Linked DNA regions of Homo sapiens. The protein of the gene in region 1 interacts with the protein of each later gene in a pairwise test. Each region holds a gene or a part of one and is shown in the gene's direction. Other genes may lie near its edges.

Evidence for each region.
Region 2: the proteins of ZNF697 (region 1) and GDAP1 interact in binary tests that used the Homo sapiens proteins (3 or more experiments, as listed by UniProt).

What each region holds. Positions count from the first base shown.
Region 1 is NC_000001.11:119,645,258-119,653,005, reverse strand, and holds the start of ZNF697 (zinc finger protein 697), read left to right. Parts: upstream 1-4,739; 5' UTR 4,740-5,315; intron 5,316-7,748. UniProt on the Homo sapiens protein: RNA-interacting protein with a high number of miRNA targets. Acts as a damage-induced regulator of muscle remodeling by mediating the interferon gamma response in muscle cells.
Region 2 is NC_000008.11:74,360,378-74,367,376, forward strand, and holds the end of GDAP1 (ganglioside-induced differentiation-associated protein 1), read left to right. Parts: intron 1-1,506; coding exon 1,507-1,601; intron 1,602-1,886; coding exon of another isoform or gene 1,887-1,997; exon of another isoform or gene 1,998-2,442; intron 2,443-2,561; coding exon 2,562-2,676; intron 2,677-3,607; coding exon 3,608-3,990; 3' UTR 3,991-6,499; downstream 6,500-6,999. UniProt on the Homo sapiens protein: Regulates the mitochondrial network by promoting mitochondrial fission.

The sequences.
Region 1 (7,748 bases):
TCTCAGAAAGGATTCCTGTTGACTATTTTCCTCCATGATCACAACTGTAAAGGGAATTGAGAAGGATTCCCGTTCTTGGGACCGAATTGTTTTAGCCACCCCCCGCCTTCTCTTGTATTTCAGAGGTATGGAGTCTATCTACGCTCTAGACCCTGTCCTGGGAGTTTCTGTCTTTTAAGGAAAAGCCTTAGAGATGACTCATTTTAACAGTCTTCAGTTTAACAGCCACCATCTTGGCCTCTGCCTAGGGCAACTTGAAATAACTATCTGCAGATGAGGAGGACTAATGGAGTGGCCTTTTGATGCAAGATGGTGTCCTAGTAGATAGCTCTTTAATTAGGGTGACCTGCTTTAGAGCTGTCACCTAGGTATAATTATTAATAGCACCCATACTCACACTCAGAATTGTCCCATTTTGATAAGAAATGATATGGTCACCCAATTAAAATGGGGTTAATTCTTCCCTTCCTCTGGCAGGAACAGCACAGCAGGAGGAGTTTGATGTAGACTCAGGAGACAGTCTATTATCAGTTTTTTACTTATGCCTTTGCTGTCACTGTGTAAGAGGCAGAGGATTTTAGTTTTCTAACGTGGCATGGCTCAATATATCTGACTCCAGACCATTTGGGTTTGCTGGCTACTGGTAGAAGGGGAATCTTTTAATCACACTGTAATTTTTTCCTCTCTGCTACTACATAGGCCAGTTTCAACATTAGCATGGCTTTTTCTTTGGAACATTTATAAAAACTATAAGTAGACCAAACTCTCTAAAACCCTGACATTTGTCAATCAAGACCTCTCAAACTCCACCCTGGAAATGCTGGGGTCTGAGACCTCTCACTCAGTTTCCTGGCTACCATATCACAAGAATTTCCAGTTCTCTAGCCTGGCACAGAGGGATCTTTCCTACTTTCACCATTTCTCAACTCAGCCAATTTTACATTTAAGGATCTGCACTACAGCATCCCACTTCCAGCTATATAGAACTCTTTTGGCTGCAAGAGATAGAACTTAACCCAAAATAGCTTAAGCCCAGAAGGGAATGTTTTGGCTCATGTAACTAAAAAGTCTAAGGGTACCTTGGCTTCAGGCATGATCAAACAAGTCATAAAAATTTGCTTATGCATACATCCCTTCCCACACCCCTTTTCTCAGCTTTGTTTCCTTTAATAGCTTATCCCTCATACAACACTGAATTGGCTAATTGGCGGGTCTTGATCACTACCTGCCAATGAAGTGGAGGTGAAGATGGGCTCTGCCCTTCTCTAAACCACAAGACCTAAGGGTGGAAATGGGGTTTTTTCTCAAAGGTGCTGTTACCAAAAAAAGGGAAAGGGATGCTTGCTAGGTTAAGAAAAACAACAGAGGTCCATCCATTTTATACTTGAAAGCTTAAAAAAATGTAAGCAAATCTGTCCAGACTCAACTCTCTGAAAGATGAGGATGAGAATCATTATTTACTTTGCCTCAAAGTGGTGAAGAAGAAAAAGAAAAGGGCAAGGGTAAAATTTTTTTTAGTTTAAAGATGAAATGAAAATCCACAGGCTTGAAAGTTTGGACTTTCCTGAAGTTGTGGTGTGCCTTTCCAACCTATTGTCAACTTGGAAAAGACTTAATCTTCAACAGTGGAGGAAGCCTCCATTCTCTCCTTTCATTCACTTGTCTGTCACCTTCCCCTGAGGGCCTCAAGGGCAGGAGAGAGCATATGACAAGGAGGAAAGAAATGCCATTTCCTTCTGGTCTCAGACTCTGCGTATCTTAGCTGGGAATATGCAGTTTGGTCATTTCAATCTCAACATTTTCAACACTAAGTTGCAGGAATTAGTTAATTCAACAAGTATTTGTTGAATAAGAATCCCTTATCCTCTTTCGTTCCTCTTTGTTACCCTTTGTTTCTCTCCAAGACTTTTCTCATCAGCATTTAAACATCCTCAAGGCTCTCTCATCTTAAAAACCGAACAAATAAAACCCCTACAAACAGAAGAATGTCCTTTGATCCGACTTCCTTCTCAGCTACCACCCTGTTCAGAACCAAATTTCACATACTACATGTCTTCTTTACCGTCTGTATTTCCTCCCTCCCAAGCCTTCCTCTGGCCACTCCTGTCCACTCCTGCCACTCACTGGAACAGAAGGCTTATGGAAAGAGCCCCACTTTTACAGAACACGAACCCCAGTATAAGGCAGCATTATAGCCCTTAAACACTGTGAAGTAATTTTGTGACATCTGTCTTTTCAACTGGAGTGTGGGCTTCTTGGGGGTAAGACATAGCTGGTAGTTACTCAGTAAAATATCTTACTGTTGAATGTTACATGTCTACTCCAGACATGGAGACTAGCATGAATAAATGTTAAACAAAACTTTGTTGAAGTAACAAAATAACTGAGATTGGAAACAAAAGGATGGGACAGGTTTGGAATGGCGTGAAATAATGAGTGAAAGTTCAATTATTCTGAGCTCAAGTTAGAAGTGTAGGAGAAGGAGGAGAGTGTGTTGTATTAAAAGCAAGGCAAAAAATAGTTTCAATGGGCAATGTTATATGTTAAATGCTACAAGCAAGTATATCATGTTTTTCAGACTGAACACTATTAGAGGCTACTTGATTTGCAAAACAATAATCAATTCTTTGGGGTGGAGATGGGGAGATTAGTTTCACTGGAATGTTACCAGGTTGAGAATATGAAGGAGCAGTAATTTGTAGGGTCCAGAAAATGCAAGGATCACAGCACAATTAATTTAGGTGGACAGTCAACAGAGTGGGCATACAGCAGGACCTTTAGGGTGGGCATACAACAGGAACTTTTGGGAGGTGAACAGTCCTATCTGCATGCTTCTCATCAATTCTACATTTTAATCCAGGCCATCTTATCCGTGAGGTTAAGGATCTCTAGAGAAAGAGAACTCTAGCATAAACTTTACTTAAATGTAAGCTAAACCCTTCACCCAAATGTTTTAATCATATGGATTTAAAATGTGAAATGACAAGTGGAAGTGACACGTAATTATGACCTTATTTTTTGAAACAGAGTCTCAATCTGTCACCCAGGCTGGAGTGCAATCACGGTTCACTGCAGCCTCAAACTCCCAGTCTCAAACGACCCTTCCACTTAAACGACCGAGTAGCTGGGACTACAGGTACGCGCCACCACACCCGCTATTTATTTTATTTTACTTTTCGTAGAAACAGGGTCTCACTGTGTTGCCCAGGCTGGTCTTGAACTCCTGGGCTCAAGTGACCCTCCCACTTCGGCCTCCCAAAGTGCTGTGATTACAGGCATGAGCCACCAAGCCCAGAGACTTTTCTTTCTTTCTTTCTTTTTTTTTTTTGAGACGGAGTCTCACTTTGTTGCCCAGGCTGGAGTGCACTGACATGATCTCAGCTCACTGCAAGGTCTGCCTCCCAGGTTCATTCCAGTCTCCTGCCTCAGCCTCCCGAGTAGCTGGGACTACAGGTGCCCGCCACCACGCCCGGCTAATTTTTGGTGTTTTTTTTTTTAGTAGAGACGGGGTTTCACCGTATTAGCCAGGATGGTCTCCATCTCCTGACCTCGTAGTACGCCCGCCTCGGCCTCCCAAAGTGCTGGGATTACAGGCGTGAGCCACCGCGCCCGGCCTCCCAGAGACTTTTCTATCTGATTACTTTTCAAACACATTCTAGAGCATCCTAGAACTTGTCCTTTCCTAGTTCAGTTTATTACTTTCTGCTCATGCTCCAGGAGAGAATATAGCTTTTAGTCATTTAGTCTCTATGTGGTCCTTCCTTGATTTTCTAAGGGTCCTGAGTCTGTGGTCCCAGAAATAGACAAAAACATGTGCAGGGCATCATAGACTCTTGCTAGGCTGGAAGTAGAGTTCCTCTCTTGTAGCCAATGTCCTCTTCTCCTCACCCTTCCACTCCCGAAATACACACACTCAATATACAGTGGCCAGCACATCTGTTTTATGGGACCAAGAAGCTGAATCCTAAAGGTTAATGAAGGAAAGATACGCAGAAAGTCCAGCACTTTCCTAATTCAGCAGCACACAGGTTTTCACGTCTAATATTTAATTTACGTAATTTATTTTCAATCTCAATTTAATTGCTTTTCTTGAAAAGATGTTTGGGACAAGGTCAACAATGAGGGAGGAATGTCACCGGGTCGGGATCTGGAAACAATCAGCTCTGTATGGTTTTAAAGATGAAGCGCCAAGATCTTAAGGAACCTGAATTCCTGGTGAGCAATCAAGTTCTTTAATCGGCCCCCAGCAGGATGTCAACGGCGTAAAAGACAAAAAGAAAATCTATTTTAAAAGATAGATTTTGTGTTTTTAGATTAATTTTTAAAAAGCGAACCCACCACAAACTTCCCAGTTTTTAAAGAAAAGGCCTCTCCCACCGCAGAGCCCTCCCGAACCATGGGACAGCTCAGCGGCAGCGTCCCACCGGCTGCCCGCAACCGGTGCCGCGAGCTCGGAGTGCAGCGCTGGGATCTCGCGTGCTCCGGGACAGCGGGCTCCTTGAGCGCCGCGGGGCGGGGCGTGGGGCAAGACCCGCCGGCCGCTCCCTTCCCCACAGCGCTTAGAGAAGCAGCGAGCGCCTTTCCTCCTGTCCCGGAGTCCTAGCCTGGCCCGAGCTACCTCCAGGGCGCCCGCTGCTGCGGTGGCAGGAAGTCCCCGGGAACTACAAATCGAGGCATGCTGGGAACATTCTCCCGCTCCTCCCAGGAAATGTCCTTTGTCCAGCCCTACAGGAAGCCCCAGTGAGGAGTCAGCCGGGCAGCCAGCCAGCGAGCCAGCCAGCCAGCCAGCCAGCCAGCCAGCCAACCAGCCAGCCAGCGGGCCACCCAGCGGCCGCTGCAGCCGCCGCCGCCGCACAAGGGCAGACGCGCTGCGGTGCGGGGCTCGGGCCGGGGCGCTCGGTGCCCTAGCTCCTCGCCGCGCCAGCCGCCTCGCAGGTAGGAGCGTGGCTGTGGCTGGGCTCAACCGCCTCCCGGGGATGGGGCTGATCGGGACCAGACCCGACCGCTGCGGGGATGGGGTGTGTGTTCGAGTGCGGTGGCGGAACGGCTGGGCGAAGTTGTGCCTCGTAAAGTGGACCGTTGTCCGCTCCCCTGGGGCGCAGGGCCCCGGGCTTATGGGGTGCTCTCGCGCCCCCAAAGCCAGGACTGAGCTCCCTCAGGGGTATGTGGCGAGGGGCGGGGAGGAGGAGGCTGAGACTTGAGGGAGGAGACAGCGATGCAAGAGGGAATAGGACCGTCCCGCCGACCACCGAAGGGGGCATCAGAGACCCTCGGAGAAACCAAGCCCAGGGAGGAGCTTGGAAGGCAAGGAGAAGGTGAAGGGCTTTGTGTGCAGCTGTGGACCTTGACGGACTGCGCTCCCCTTGCCTTGTCTGTTCGTGCCTCCAGCCCCACTGGGGCTAAGGGAGGGTGGGGGGCTCCGAGAAGGGCAGGAGAGAGGCGGCAGGTCATCTTGGGTCCTAGTGAATGAAATGTGTGCCTCCCTTTTCCTCTCTTCTCCATTCTAGCCCACTCAAATGAGCGGCTTTGGGGCTGCCATCAGACCGGGCAAATGACACAATAAGGACGGGTGGGTGGAGAGATGGGCAGCAGCTCGCAGCCCAAGAGGGGTGGCCGTCTAGCCCCGGGAGGCATTCCAACCACACGTGTCCATGTAGGTAGGTGGTGGGGTGGTGGGCAAAGCTGGAACCTGCACCTCGCGGGGATGCCGAGGCTCAGGATTGTGCATGGAGGCACGGGTGAGGCGCGTGTTGGGAGGAGTGGGTGAGTAAAAGGTTGAGGGGGAGCAGCGACACAGAGGCGCTGAGTGTACCTTATGGCCAATGTACATTATGGCCATGCATCGGGAACTGACTACCACTTCCTCTGGGACTTTCCACGATTTTCCTTTTTCCTAACCGCCTCCCCCAACCGCCCCCGCCCTGCCTCCCCCACAGGAGTGAATCACCCACCCCTTACTACATGAACCCTGGGCTGAATTGAAGTTGGTGATGTATCCCTGTCCTTGTAGTGGGCATGTTTGTCCTTAACCTGTAGGATGACACCAATACTCCGCATCCCCTACTGCGTTACCCTCCTCCCTCAAGACTGAGCGTCTGGTAAATGCGGTTGGATAATGGCTAGCGAGTTAAATGTCTTTGAGTAGCTGTGGTGGATGAGTGGGCAACTTTGAATACAGTCCAAGTGTGACTGTTGTAACTGAACTCAGCATGCCTAAGGGGCCACACTCACTATCTCTCCTTTCTCCCCTCACCTGATTTTTTGTTGATGCCCCCAACTGTTTACCTTCTTCTCTCAACAAGCCAACATGTGGATATTATTTAATGTGGAATACGTTTGAGGAACCAAATGAACCTTTAAGAATGCCACTTATATGGCCAGGCAGGAGTATGCAAGGCTCATGGTCGAAAGAATGATGCTGTAGGACATGGAGAGAGCCCTGAGCCTGATATAAATGGCTTTCGAGGTGAAACAAAACATTTCTTCCTTAGCTTCTTTGGGAGAGATGAGGCATTTGAACTGAGATAAAGAATGGAATCGAGAAAAAAAACCGAGTTGTTTAGGATGAGGCCATGAGGATAATGAAGTGAAGGGAAGAGGCTCTGTGAATTTAGATGATTTCTAGTTAGAACATATTGGCCGTGTGTGTGTGTGTGTGTGTGTGTGTGTGTGTGTGTGTGTGTTGGAAGTGGGGGTTGTTGTTAAGGGAAAGTTGATGTCAAAAGTTCAGCCATGCCCAACAGAGAATAAGATGGCATCCTATTGAACAAGATCATAAATATGAAGTCAGGCTGCCCTTTACATTACACAAAGGAACACATAGATGGCTTTTCAGAACTACTGGGATAGAGGGGTAAATGGATGCTAGTCAGACAGAAGAACCGGCTGGATTGATGCGGCTGGATTGAAGTGGTAAATAGTGACCTCACATCAGCAGCATGACTAAGGCTCATGGAGTTGCATCACATTTCCTCTCCCTCCCCCACCAAAACTCTTTGAATTTCCTCAGAATCTACATTTTTTGCCTAATTACTAGTGTCCTGTGAAGGGAAGGAGAAAGGGTAAAGGTTGGTTGTAAGGATGATAAACTAAGGCAAGAAGGAGCTTGTCTGCTTATGTAGAAAGAAAAAAATAGCTACAGTGTCAGTAAGAGGTCTGGAGCTTGAACCTATGTCAGTACCATATGGGCTTTTCTTTGTATCTAAGATTCTACTTCTTTTTTCTTTTCTTTCACCTGCCCCTTAACAGGTTTCTCAGTACCACACACTATGTAGAGTTAATATAATCAACAAAAGTAACTCCTTACTTTGGGATTTAAAATTCTTCACAATTCAGTGCCTACCTACCCCTCTCCTTTACTGGACCTGTGCCACCCCAATTTACCTACCCATCCTTCGAGCAAATAGCTCCCCAGTCCTTGAAGATGCAACAGACATTCTTCTACCTCCGTGACTGTCCGGTTGAACCCCATGCTTGCTGGACATCCCTGTACCTGTCCCTAATTATTTTTGTACATATCCTGGCCCAGCTGATTAGCTCCCTTACAGAACTCTTCCCAAACTTTACAGTCAAAATTAATCTTACCCCTTGGTAATTTGTATTATTTCAATGACACCTGCTTTAGGTGTTAATATCTAACAAGTGCCCAAAGGATGTTTGATTTGAAAACATGAATAAATCAAAGAAGGAGTGAAAGGATAAAAAAAATCTTAATTATCTTGCCTTTTCTTTAGAAAATGGGATGGAGC
Region 2 (6,999 bases), on another chromosome or scaffold:
CATGTCTCATGGTCACTAAAAGAAGATTGGGAATAGGGTTGTTGAGTTTGCTTCATGGATGTGCATGTTATGGATCGATCCATGAACCAGTCGGATTAATCTGTGCTTCACTTGCTCAATTGGACATTTATTGTCTATAGGACCTGATTTATCAGCTCTTGGCTTTGAGGGCCAATCTTGGGTAAAACTCAGAAGAGTGGATTATGGAAGAGTAAAGAATATAACATGTTCTCATGAACAGATGGACTAGGAATCTGAAAACCTGGGATCTGCCTAGGATTATGGGCAGTTGAGTTCATGTTACTGGTCCTTAATTGTTGTTTTCGTTATTTGAGGAAACTGGACTAGAGGGTGTCTAACTATTACTCTGTCTCTATGTTCAGTGATAGTAGATTTATTGGGATTGAGTTGTGACATCCAGCTTTCTGCCTTCCTCCTGTCATGAGAATAGTCAGTGCATGATCTGTGGAGCAGGAGGTGTGCTTTATAGCAGAGATAATTGGAGATAAGAAGGGAAAGGATTGTGGCAGTGGTCACACTTTGGGAATGTTGATCAGAAACACTCAAACTCAGATCTTCTAAATCCAGAAACCATGTGTTCCCCATTATGTGATACTCACCTTTATTATTCTTATTATTCTTTTTTTCCTTTTTGATACCCCTCCTTTTCCTCTCCTCTCCCTTCCCTTTTCATCTCTTCCCTTTTCTCCCTTCTCTTCCTTTTTCTCCACTGCCCTCTCTTCCTGCTTCTCTTTCCTCTTATTCCTCCTCCTCTTCATAAATACCCTTTATAGTATTTGAAACAAGAGTTTTGACTATAATTCTATGACCTATAGTTAATATTTTTTAAAAATAAGGCTTTTTCCTCCCTTCATATAGGAGTTCATTATAGAAAGCTTGAAAGGTAGAGGAAGGCGGAGCAGCAAGCCTGCACTGAGCACTGTAAAGTGCTGGGCCTTGCTCTAAGTGCTTCCCATGAAGCTTCTCATTTAGTCTTCATGGCAGATATTCTTTGTTTTTTTCTTTTCTTTTTTTTTTTGGATGGAGTCTCGCTCTGTTTCCATGCTGGCGTGCAGTGGCATCATCTCGGCTCACTGCAACCTCTGCTTCCTGAGTTCAAGTGATTCTCCTGCCTCAGCCTCCCGAGTAGCTGGGATGACAGGCATGCGCCACCACGCCCAGACAATTTTTGTATTTTTAGTAGAGACGGGGTTTCACCACGTTGGCCAAGATGGTCTCGATCTCTTGACCTCCTGATCCTCCCGCCTCGGCCTCCCAAAGTGCTGGGATTACAGGTGTGAGCCACCGCGCCCAGCCGGCAGATACTCTTATGGTTCCATTTGAAAGGTGAGGAAACTGAGGCATAGACAGGGTAAGCCCAAGGCAGAGAAGCAGGGCATGAGCCCCAGAGCTCATGCTCTTGTCATTGAGTTTCTCTGCTTCTCCTTGTTACTGGTGTAGAAGGGAGAAAATAATTTTCTGTTTCCAAAATGTTTTTATTATCAGGCCAAATTGGAAACACAGAGTCTGAGCTGAAGAAACTTGCTGAAGAAAACCCAGATTTACAAGAAGCATACATTGCAAAACAGAAACGACTTAAAGTAAGCCAATCAGCTGTCCTCAGTTGACATACACTGCACGGAGTAAATGTTCTACTTTTTGTAAAGTACCACTATTTCTAGAATATCTTCTTTTAAATATTGCAGTTCACCAGTACACATGTTACCTTTGGCTTATGTTCTCCTTTTAGAAAGAATTTTTTATTAGACTTGATATTGAAACTTGATGACAAGTGCTTAACAAGCAGATATTGAGCATGCTGGTTGCCAAAAAAGTTATGAAATGCAAAGGAAGTTCATAACATATTCTAGAATCTGTCATTTCAGGTATTCCACCACTGGAAGTCCTCGCTAGACCTACATCCCTCCATGTGTCGCCCTGACTTGCTTTGCCCCCTGAGGAGTGTGCTTTATGGTCAGCCTTTCTCCTTCTGTTGATTCCTTCCCCGGGCCCAGCAACTATTGCAAGCTTCTCTCATATTAAAAGTGTAGAAAACAGCAGCACTCCCAACCCTCCCCAACTTCCCACCTTCCTTTATCCTATCGTAGCTAAACGAGCTCCTCAGAAGAAACACCTGCACTCACAGTCACTTGACTGACTCTCCACTCGCCGTTTAACTCCTTCACTCGGACTTCTTACTCATCCCTGACCCTTCAGCTACTCTTTCAATTACGGCTGCTAGAATTCTTTTCCTGAGTTGGGCTTGGCAGATGGCTCTTCGTGTCCCTCCCATTCTTTGCCTTCTGTGGTCATCTGGCCTCATAGGAGCTGCCAGTGAGTGGTGGGTCTGCTCCTGGGTCATTTTCACAGCTGGGATATTTCCCTTCAACTTAGCTCTCTCTCTCTCTTTTTTTTTTTTTTTTTTTTGCTGAGTTTTTCTATTTCTTCTCGTTGTCTAAAATAGGCTGAACTCTGTAAGAGTTTGTATCTGCTTTACCTAGATTTATTTTTTTTAAAGGTGCAAATAATATGTTTGGTTTCTTTTTTTGGTGGTTAATTAGTCAAAGCTGCTTGATCATGACAATGTCAAGTATTTGAAGAAAATTCTTGATGAGTTGGAGAAAGTCTTGGATCAGGTTGAAACTGAATTGCAAAGAAGAAATGAAGAAACCCCAGGTAGGTTCTCATTTATATTCTTTCTCTCTTTTCAACATCAGTATTATTCATGGGAACATTCTTAGGTCTCACCAAAAACGTTCTGTAATCTGCTTTTCATTGTTGTTATTCACAGGCAGTTTTAATTATGATAGCAATAATGATATTGCACCCAGAAAAACCCAGGTGTCTAATTGTAACTCAATCTGCATCTACGTGAAGGATTTTTCTGCATAATTTAAATTATGCTTGGGAGATTTTTACCTGTTTTACAAATTTGTAATTACAGTAGTTAGTTTGGTTGAATAACTTGAGTAATTGCTTGAATATTCCCTCTAGTTTTTTCCTTAGGCAGGGAGACAGCCTCCAATCTAAAGTGTAATAAGGACCAGCACGTGGGCATCTGTAGACTGGCTGGTAAGCATGCCAGTGAACTGGCTTCAGGGTTAAGCCATAGGTGTATACACATGGGCCATTTATGCTACTCCGACTAGAGTTGAAGACTATGTTACCTGTCACAAAAGCTCTTCTGCTTTAAATGACTAAGAGCAGTAGCCACTGAGTGATGTTTCAGACTCAGCTTTATGGATTTTTCTAAAGCAGAACTGTTTTTATAAACCAGAAGGAAGTTTCTTTTAACTAGCTTGGAGGCTCCCAACCCCTTAGTGTCCTTTACAAAGTGATAAGCTCAAGTGGCTGCAATCTTACATAGGGACCTGGATGGCTGACAGACGTCAAGCAAGTCTCCTTTGGCCTAGGATACGTTTGCATGGACTTTTTTTTTAAAGCATGAAATTATTCTCTGAGTGTGGCTGTCAAGAAAATAAATATATAATGTCCTTCATCTTTTGCTATACTCACACTCACCCTTAAGGGTGAGACCACTGATACCAGCTGGAGTCTGTCTGTAGAGTGCTTGCCTCTAATTCTCTATGTCCCTTTCTCTAATTAGAAGAGGGCCAGCAACCTTGGCTCTGCGGTGAATCCTTCACCCTGGCAGACGTCTCACTCGCTGTCACATTGCATCGACTGAAGTTCCTGGGGTTTGCAAGGAGAAACTGGGGAAACGGAAAGCGACCAAACTTGGAAACCTATTACGAGCGTGTCTTGAAGAGAAAAACATTTAACAAGGTTTTAGGACATGTCAACAATATATTAATCTCTGCAGTGCTGCCAACAGCATTCCGGGTGGCCAAGAAAAGGGCCCCAAAAGTTCTTGGCACGACCCTTGTGGTTGGTTTGCTTGCAGGAGTGGGATATTTTGCTTTTATGCTTTTCAGAAAGAGGCTTGGCAGCATGATATTAGCATTTAGACCCAGACCAAATTATTTCTAGGTTTGTTGGGATCTTGTCGTGGCAGCTCATCCAAGCATTTAGCTAGACCCTGTGATTGCCCGTGGCTCTCTGAGTCTGTCTTATTGAGTAGTTAGCAGTATTTTTTCCTAAAATTCAGAAGTCATCTTTGTTACACAACACAGGGGTTCAGGTAGCAATAGGACACAAAATTGCTTTATTCTACAACTGCCAGCTCCAGGCAGAAATAGGAAGGCAAAGAGATAAGAGAAGGAAAAATGAGAGAATGAAGTCTGTATAGGGTAGAGCAATAGAAAGTAAGCTTCGGGTGCCTCCAACGTTCATGGCTGCCTGTCTCATTGGTAAACCTCACATTTAGTTACTTGTGGCTACTGCCCACACATACACTTCTGTAATTGAGAACTCTTAGGAGAGGACTAGGGAATCACTGGGGATAGTGGGCTGGAGAGAACCCCAGGCTTTATATGTATACTTTGACCTCAGTGTTAATTTTAAATGCTTATGAATCACACACATTGCTTTAGTAAGATTAAGTGCTTATATACTAGAAATTTGATGCTCATTGGAACACATCTGCCTAGCATTTCTGTAAAAGTCTTAAGTGATATTAAGATGATTCCTTACCATTTCAGATGGTCCGCAATTTGAATTACCAAGTGGTAATGGTTCCTTACTGTTTTAGATGGTGCCTGTGAGATACCATTCCTCTGGATGGTCATGTCCAGTCAGTGGGAGGTAGAAAGGGTGGCATCTGTAGCCCTCTTCATACACATAAGTGGCATTTAGGTGAATGTCCCAGCTAATCACTAGCATGTCTAGGTATTGGCTGGGTAGTGGGTATTTTGATGATCTGGGAGCACCAAATATGTTCATTCTTCGTTTGGGGAGGCTGGTCTGTAAACACAAAAATTGTTGTCCAGATCTTTCATCTGTTTATGATCATCAACAAAGACTTGTTAGAAAGGTCTAGTCTTAGCACTTGGCAGTTAATCTAGGGAAGATGAATTAAATGGGTAGATAGTGATGCATACCTGTATTCACTGATGTATGTTTAAGGGATTTGGGGGGGATACCTCAGTTCATGTGGAAGGGACAGTCTCGGTGTGTCCCATGAATAACCTTGGAACTGCAACAAATGGTTTGTGCTCAGAAAAAGTCTTTCATGGTGACAGGAAGACAGTTTCCCTGGAGCTGGCCATGAAGGCCTTAGAAGCCATTTCTGGTGTCTGGTGGGTAGCAGGCATAGAGATGATGTGCCGAGGTCCCAGTGAACAACAGTAGCCAAAGAATGTACTAACTTTATCATTAATAGGAAAGTCATACCTAGGAAACAATGACTTTTTGATGGCAAAATGATTTTTTAATTCTATTTTGATGCTGTAATTCCATTTCATGACCTAGTTGTATTAGAAAACCTTGATGAACTATATGTTCCCGATTTACAAAAAAATTAATAAAACCTCCAGAGTAAACTCAGTCAAACAATAATTGAGTAGCAGCTTTTATAACATTTAAAATTTGCACATGAGTGTGTTGTCATATGGAGTGTCTGAATCTGTTGCTGGGACATACCAATCCATGTATTCATTAGAGCCATAGAAGTTATTATTCATTAGTTCATAGTGTTTGAGTTCTTTATGTCACTCTGTTAGAAACAAGAACTGAGTCGTGAAGAAATAAGAATTGGATTTTTATAAAAACCTCTGAAGGATATTTACCTATGAAAAAGTTGTTAAGAATAAAAATTAGAAGTCCATGGTTAACTTTTCCTTCAATTTATATTATTCCTGAATCATAGGGAATCTTTCTAGAATGTGTTTATAATTTCCTTGTACAGTTTCTTTGGAAATACGTTAAAGATAGTGGCAATTTCATATATTTCATGGATACTTGAGTTTGTGCTTTTAAGGTGTTTGTTTAGGGATACAATGACCACTAGATGTCGCTGTTTATCCAGTAGACTAAGATTGAGTGTTCTTTTTGTTCAGCAACTCTTCTAAAATGTTTCAAGCAAAGATAGTAATGACCTCAGTTTCTGAAATAAGGGCATCTTCATCAGATTATTCTTCTGTTTTAAAAAAAAGCTTGAGGCAAATGTGAGTGATTTCCAGTGCTTTGAAAGGGATTACAGTATCACACAATGTCAAGCTAGAGTTAAACACAGTATTAGCTAAATAGGCACTTATGTGTATTTTCTTTTTCATGATTATCGGTGACTGGTCAGTGTACTCATCAATTTCCAAAATTTGTATAAATATCACAATTAGAAAAATGCCTGAGGTACTAAAGTTATGTTGGCTTTTTGTGTCTTAACACACATAAATACTATTGTTATTGCAGCAGATGCCTTTTGAATCCATTTTCCATAATTGCGGATAGTCATAAATTGCTTGCTCAATTTTTAGTAATTATTGCTGTTGACACCAGCGTTGTAGATTTTTGGTGTTGTTGAATGCAGTAGAGAGACCAAGACACTATTCTGTAAGATCAATAAAAGTAATTGGAAAATAAATATGAACCCTAAAACAAAGTACTCACTTTGTAATCTTTTTTGGAAAACAGATATATTTTTTTCATTTAAAATCAAAGCATCATGTGGTAGTTAAAAGGGTAAAATAAGCAGAGGTTAGGTATTCAAGATACTTAGCTATAGGATGCCATATTTTCGTTATAACAAAATTGCTGACTCTTGCTTCATTTAAATATGCACGGTTAAAATGAATAGCGGCCTAAAGAATAACACTGATCTCTCAAAAAAAAAAAAAAAGAATAACATTGATGCTGCTCATTAATATAGCTCTGTTGCAGCCAGCCACCTACCATGGGAGAGCATGAAAATGATGAACACTGAGTACTTATCTTTGCAAAATAGTTTTCTTACATGTTTACTGGGTTTCAAGTATTACTCATATTTATGTATATTTTTGACATAGCTAATTCTCTTTTATTGAGTATGGATTATTCATATTGAAATTACCTTCTACATTTCTAGCTTAGTAAGCTTAGCCATTCTAATCAAGTAGAAATTGA